2 linked regions of the Homo sapiens genome follow. The protein of the gene in region 2 purifies or fractionates together with the protein of the main gene of each other region. This does not show direct contact. Each region holds a gene or a part of one and is shown on either strand. Other genes may lie near its edges.

Region 1 (3,811 bases), on a different chromosome or scaffold from region 2:
CTCGTTCATGGAACCACTTATTGGAGACTGTGAAAAGAAAGCAAGCATGTTACAATCCTATTGGTCAGTTTAGTAGCCTGAATGAATGACTCCTTCATGATGACCCCCTGCACTGTGCCCTGGAATCAGACACAAATAAGACAAGACATGATCTCAGGCCTCAATTTGCTGAAGAATTGGTAAGGAAGACACATGTAAACAGATAATTGTATGAAATTCTGCCAGTGGGACAAGATACATGTGTGCAGGTTGCCATGGGAATAGCACCCAAGGGCATCTAATCATGCCCTTTCATGCCCATGACCTTTGATGCCCTTTGGCTCTATTCCCATGGCAACCTGCACACATGTTTCTTGCTCTTAGAGGGAAGAGGAAATCCTAGGGCTAGAATATAAAGCTACATAGAAGTTATCCTGGGAAGAAGATGGGCATACCCAGATGGTTCTCTCACCAAGAGGGTCCCAGGAGTGACAACAGGATGAGAAAGTAATCAAGGCAGAAGCCACCCTGACGTGTGTTGGGGACTCAAGAGGCCTAATATTACTGGGAGGTGGCAGGTAGAAACTGAGAGGTAGGGTGTGAGGATGAGGAAGACTGTCAGCATTGCAGAGGGCTTGGACATTAACCTCAGGAGCCGTGGACCAGCAGATCCAGTCTGTATGCCATGGGCACAAGAGCAACAGAGCTGCTGCCAGCACTATCACCCCACGCCATATCTTCAAACACACAGGAACCATGATTCTGTTCCTCACAGACTCTCTCATAATGAATAAAAATTTTATTTCAATGCACTACTGAAGTCACAGAGCTTTTAAAATATAAAGTAATAACATGTACTTCATTGAAAAAAATAAAATTGTCGCAAGGCTTATAATGATAAATAGCACTCCTCCTAAGCCTCTCCTTCCCATCCCTAATCTCCACTCCCAGGGAACATTAAACTCCTCTAGCTGTTTCTTCTGATATTTAACCTCATTTTTCTAGATAAGATGCTTATAGTTCTATTCCTTGACTTTCAACTTTGGAATTCTTTTATTCTACCCCTAAAACACAAACTCATCCCCTCCCACCTTTCCAGTACAGGTAAATCATAAGTTTTAGTTAAAGTAATACTCAGTGTGTACATAATTATATCATGTGTTACACCTGAGCCATCTAGTAGATTATACTTACATTTCCTTTCTTGTACAACTTTTTTTCCCCTGAATTCAGCAACTGCCTTGTTTTCTTTTCCATTTGCTTAATTATCTGCAAACCTATCACTATTTATCTTCAAAACTCTCCAAGGGGGCTACACACTCATCTCCTTACAAACACTTCCTGTCATATCCTGGTTTGAGCCTCTCCGAGGCTCACCACAACTGCTCCCAGGATAAGGCTCAAGCTTGAGCCTCTGCAGTTTGGTCCCAGCCTCCAGCCTCATCTTCTGGCCCCTGTGCCACAGGCCTCCCTTTCTTCAAGTGACAAGGGAGCCAGCCCCCACACCCGTATGCTGGTTTTAGCCTGTGCCTCCATCCATATGGGCCTTGTTTGCCTGAGACACTCTTTCCCCTCACTGCTTCCAGCTCTCCACTCTGCTCCCTCAGAAGCCTTGCCAGAGGGTCCTGGACCTATGGTGCTTATGCAGCTATTCGTCCTCAGGCCTTCTTCAGCTTCCTGTGTATCTCTGAGTGTTTCCAACCAGCTGCCTTGGCATTTACCAGCTGCATGGACATTACATGGCTGGATGGTAATAACAGCAGAAAAAAACCTAAGAAGGGAGACAGTCTCAGCAAATTTGGCAGCAGTTGCCTCCCAGCTCAGAATCTAAGGCCAATAAGCAAAGCCCAAGCTGAGGCCACCAACACCAACACTACCCCTTAAGACACTCACCCCACTTGCAGCCCACAAGCACAGGGCAGGCAGCATGTCTTGTTCGGTAGTCACCTTCCCCGCTCCGCAAGAGGTTGTACCAGAACACAGCTGTACCCTGGGAAAGAGATGGCCTTTCAGAACACATTCTTAAGAGACTGTGCTCAGGGACCTGACTGCAAGCATCACAGAAGCTCTGCCCTGAGCAGAAACACCCTCATTTTCCCATGGACAGGGGATAGGGCTCTGGGACTCCAGCAACAGAGACATTTCCCAGAAAGCACCTACCTTTCTGAGGTAGAAGTCTGGGAACTCACCCGCCCCTGAAGGGACTTCCCTCCCTGTCCTTTCTTCACAGGGAGAAGCTGGGCTACCAGGTCAGACCCCAGGTGGGCTAAGGCACATCACAGTGACAATCAGGCAGGCCAGGTAATGGTACTGGGGGACATGGACAAAGTAAAGTCTGAGCCTTGCTTCAACCTCTGACCCACAAGAATCAGAACTTACCTTCTTAGGCCAAATTGCAGCCCCCAGATCAGGGAAGACGGTGGCACCACCAGCTTCTACATCACTCATCTGGAAATATAAGACATAGAGCTTGACCCTCCTACCCAAGGCTCTCAGAGCAATTGAGCCACAAAGGACATGACAAGGTATATAGATTGCCCTCCTCTCAGCATGAGTGACACTACTTGGTGTCTGCTCCATGGCCAGCCCTTTAGCCAAGAAAGGCTCTTCCCATGCCTACTTAACCAGTGTGATTCATTAGAACAGTCTCCATGTCATGAGTGTTCAAGAGTTGAGGCCCACAGGAGACCCACATCCGGGCTGTCCCTGGATGAAAATAATCTGAGTCTGTACTCAGAAAATGCCTGTTCTGACCCCACCCTTTGAATCCCCATCTAGCCTTGGCCTTGCCTAAGCCACTGTACTCTGCAAAGTGCCCTGACCAGGAGCTCTGTACTGTTTCCAACACCATGTGCAGTCCCCACTGCAGCTCTGTTTCTCTGGCTCTAGTAGTTTGCTGCTCTAGTCAGACCTTCACCTTCCCAGAGTAGCCACCCTTCCTGGGGCCAACTGAGTGGAAGGGTGGGGCACTGTGTCTCTAGAGGCCCTGCTTTCTCCTATGGTAAGGCCTTAAACTACATTGAACACAAGTTCCACACTAGCAAGGCTGTACTCATGCCCACAGAGCATGCCTTGACTCATGGCCAAAGCACTACTTCTTTCCCATCTGGCTCTCTTACTTTTTTTGTCCATAATTTAATAAAAATTGGAGGTAAAAAATATTTCCACAGGACACATACCAGACTCACTGAAGGGTACTTGACAGACATATGGTAAATGAATAAGACAAAAGCTCTGATGGCTTCTCACAGCCCTGTGGATCAAACTCAGATTCTTTTCTAGAACCCCAAGGCCCTGTCAGTCTCACTAGCCTCTCTCCAGACACACCAGCCTTTTTCTACCTTTCCAACATCCCAAGTTCCTTTTCTCTTACAGGACTACATACACTCTCTCTTCTGCCAGAAACCATGTTCTACCAGCTAATTTCCACTCAACTTTTAAGTCTCAACTGATATGTTACTTCCAAAGAGAGGCCTCCACTGAACCCCAAGCCTGGGGTTCACAGCACCTGTCTCCATAACTACATAATAATCTCTCTGATGTTTAGGCTGGGCATGGTGGCTCACGCCTGTAATGCCAGCACTTTGGGAGGCCAAGGCGGGTGGATCACTTGAGGTCAGGAGCTTGAGACCAGTCTGGCCAAGATGGTGAAACCTCATCTCTACTAAAAATACAAAAATTAGCTGGGCATGGTGGTGCACGCCTATAATCCCAGCTACTTGGGAGGCTGAGGCAGGAGAATCGCTTGAACCTGGGAGGCAGAGTTTGCAGTAAGCTGAGATAGCGCCACTGCACTCCAGCCTGGGCAACAGAGGGAGAGTCTGTCTCAAAA
Region 2 (3,811 bases):
GTGGAGTGCGGGCGTCTCTCTTCCCGCCCTTCTGGGATGCGTGCACACCTTGTCTTCCATTTATTTTCTGAAGTTAACTCAAGACTCATGTTGGATTTTTCCAAAGCAGGTATATTCCTTTCCTGGGGCCTCAGTTTCCCCGTCTGTGAAGTGAGGTTGAGGGGGGGCTAGAATTGCGGTCCTTGAAACCCCAGGCTTTCTTAGAGATGCTTTAGGGTTTCCTTGAATATCTAATAAAAATGATCATTTAAAAGAACATTAAGACGTTAATACAGTGATAAAAATGTGCTCACCCACCTTTAAGTTCTTAATATTAACTCACTGGGTTCTACTAACATGCTAACTTGTTAGTAGTATGTTTTGGGTATCCCTAAGAATTTTCTTTGGGGAGGAGGGCAGACATTTGATAAACATTTTTTAAAAAGTTGAAAAACCACTGGGCTAGATGATCTCAAAGGGTCTTCCCAGCCTTGGCAATATATAAATCTGAGTTTGAGCTCCCAGCCCGCTTCTGATCCCCTGGCCATAAGAGAAGTCACCGTCTAAGGGATGAGACCCAGGTGTCTGCCTGGACTGTTGTGGCCATGAAGGGCTTTAAATCATCCCAGGATATCTATTACAGAACTCCAAGCAATGATGCCCAGAAGGAGCCTAACCCAGAAGGGAAAGGTTCCAGGGTTTCCCCTGGTCCACCTGGAGGAAGCTGCAGCTCCAGAGACCCCCACTTGCTTCCCCAAAGGACAACTTAGGCTGCGAGGCTCAGCGATCTTCAAGCCGGACGCTTGTTGAGTTCCACCTCCATGATTTCTGGCCACATCCATGTACTACCGCCTGTGCTATTACGTACATAAAATATTTTAACAACTTCATTGAGGTACAACTTGCATATCACAAAAACTGCCCATTTTAAGTGTACAAGTCAAGATGAGTAAATTCACAGAGTTGTGCAGTCATTACCACAATCCCGTTTTAGGGCATTGCATCAGCCCCCAAAAAGATCCTTCATGTCCATTTACAGAAAATTCCAATTCCAAGCCCAGCCCAGGTAATCACTGACCTGCTCTGTCTCTAGAAACTAGCCTTTTCCGGACATTTCATAGAAATAGAAACATACACTCTGCAGTCTTTTGTGTTTGGCTTTTTTCACTTAGAGAATTTTTTTTGAAGTTCATCCATGTTGTAGCATGTATTTGTAGGCTGTTCCTTTTTATAGCTAAAAATATTCCTCTGTAGTATAGACCATATTGTGTTTATGAATCCACCCAGGTATTCAATGTATTTTAAATTTAAAACGTCAACTGTATACCACCGAGCATCATCTCATGTGCCATCAGTGGTCCACAAACTGTGCTTTGGAAACACCAACCCAAACCAGAGCCCCTGGCCTGGGGTGCCTGGGTCCTGGCCCCAGTCACCACTGCTTTGGTTTTCCCTTGGCCCAACCAGGTCTTTACCACGTGGGAAATGTGGTCGCTGAAGCCGCAATGAGGACGAGGTTGTCAAGCGTTGATTTGGAAACCAAAACAAACATCTCTACTCTGTCACCACCCAGGGCCACTAAAATATCTTGTTCTGACTTTGCAAGCTGGGGGCTTTTCCCTGGAGTTTCCCACTGAGTTTATCTGAACTCAACAGTGGAGAGTTCCCTGAGTTGGCATCCAGGAGACCTGGACTTTAGGTCCAGCTCTGCCACTAGGTGCTGTGTGACCTCTGGCCAACCGCTGCCCTCTCTGGGCCTCAGCTCCTCCACCTTTACATGCAGGAGTTCCTGTGGGTGATCTCTCTCAGCTTGCTCTCTACTTTAGGTCAGTGACTCCAAGAGGCCCGTGTTGTGGCTGATCTTTCTGCCTCTGGAGACCACACTGTGTTCGCTGAAGCCTTTCTCTGTTCTGGGCTTCCCCTTCCCTCTCCTATCTCTGCCCCAGATAACTAGGGTCCAGGCTCCAGGCATAGGCAGCGCTGGCCATCCCATCCCCAGGCTTAACCGGTTCAACCGTTTCCCCTGTCTTCATTGGCTCCAAGGAAGGATGCAGGAAATCTTTAAGGCTGTCAAGAAAAAGGTCCCTCCAGCCTGGCAGCTGTCACAAAGTTGCCATGGACTGGTAGGGGAAGTTGCCCTGGGCTGGTAGAGGAAGTTGCCCGGCGCTAGTAGTGCTGGCCTAGCTGCCTATCAGACAGGGCGACTCTTTTGGGGGCCTGGTGTCCCTGTCCAGAAGCCTGTCCAGCCATCCTGGCCCCCTCAGGCCTAGTGTGATTTGCAGCTGGCTGGCCTGGTTCCCTCCCGTGCGAGTGGCTGACTGTATGCGCCCCCCAGTTGAAGTCAGCCTGGAGGCTAGGTTTCTTTTTTTCCTGGTGCCTGGGGTGATTGGAGGGTGGTTTGGGAGCCTGGAGAGACCACTGTGATCATTCAGCCTGGTGGCTTTCAGGTGGGCTTTTTAGAGCCCTGGAGTCCATAGCAGGGCGCCTTGGGAGACTCGGGGGACAGTGGGAGGCTGAGTACCTGAGATTTGACCCATGTTGCCCACCATAGCTCCATGCCTCTCTGACTCCCAGACTGTCCAAAAAGTATTCCATTTTAAAAAGGGTTCTGCTGTTTTAAAAAGAAAGAAACCGCTGATTCAGCTGAGTACTTTCATTTTAAAGGTGGGGAAACCAAGGCCCAGAGGGGGGCTGGCCCTCAGTGCTGAGCTGGACAGACCTTCCATCTGCCGTGCAGAGCTGGCCTCCCCGCCTCGACATGATGCCCGCATCATCCGCCAGCAGTCGAGGCTTTGTTATGTTCTTTCCACCTTTTTGTATGTCTGTTTTAAACATTTTTTTAAAAAGCCACTTTCTGGGATGGGAGGGACTTTTGTCACAGCTATTTCTGACTGTGAGCCGGAAGGGGCTGGGCTGTCGGCTGGAATGGAGGACTCCAAAAAGGGATGGTGGGTGGGTCAGCTGGAGTGTCCCCCGCCCATTCCCGTCACACCCCAGGGGGGCCCTCAAGCAGGTGGGTGCTGGCCCCTGAATGTCCCGAAGCCCGAAGGCTGCCCTGGAATAGAAAGCTGAGGGCTTTGTTCCCTGCCACTCCCATTGACACTTTCGTTATTTCTGAAGCTGGCACCGATACGGATTCTTTATTTCTGATTTTCCAGTGAGGCAGCCTTCGATGGTGGAAAAGGGTTTTGCATCCTGGCTCTGCCACTGTCTGTGTGAACATGGGCAAGTGGCTTGGCCTCTCTGAGCTGCCCGTGGAGCTCCCCGCTTCGTCCTCTGTAAAAGAGGGATCATCTTGTTGCTCTCCCAGGGATTGAGAAGGAACAAATGAGGTCTGGTGTTAAGGTACCTGGGGCTTGGCAGATTTTGGGCATACCTACCTCCACCCCAGCCCAGCCCCCTTCCCCTGGCAAAGTCTGTTCCTTTAATTTACAAGGATTTCTCAGCATGGCCCTGACTGCCTAACAAGTCCATTTCAGGGCATGTCGCCGCTCTCTCTGTCCCATGGAGGCGCCAGAGATGGTGTTGGGGGTGGAGGGAGAACGGCTGCTTCTTTGTCCGGCATCTAAGAAGGCTGTTTGACCTACTCTTAGCAGTTGATTTGTGCCTCCGGAAATCTCTCGCCATCCCCCAGCCCTTTCTCCCAACTTCCTTTAAGAGAAACACACAAACCCCTCCATCTAGCGCCTCGGGTCCCTTGAGAACTATATTACAGAATCCCTTGGCTGGGTTGGCATTCTCACTGGGGACAAATTTGGGAGCGATTCTCAGAGCCTCAAGCTAGAGGGAGGGGAATGAGGTCCCAGAAAAGAAAAGGAAGCAGGGAGACAGC

The links.
Region 1: the proteins of IFFO2 (region 2) and P4HA2 purify together in Homo sapiens (co-immunoprecipitation; one large-scale study listed by IntAct). This does not show direct contact.

Annotation. Positions count from the first base shown.
Region 1 is NC_000005.10:132,193,054-132,196,864, forward strand, and holds part of P4HA2 (prolyl 4-hydroxylase subunit alpha-2 isoform 2 precursor), read right to left. Parts: intron 2,428-3,811; coding exon 2,359-2,427; intron 1,970-2,358; coding exon 1,873-1,969; intron 28-1,872; coding exon 1-27. UniProt on the Homo sapiens protein: Catalyzes the post-translational formation of 4-hydroxyproline in -Xaa-Pro-Gly- sequences in collagens and other proteins.
Region 2 is NC_000001.11:18,949,922-18,953,732, reverse strand, and holds part of IFFO2 (intermediate filament family orphan 2), read left to right. Parts: intron 1-3,811.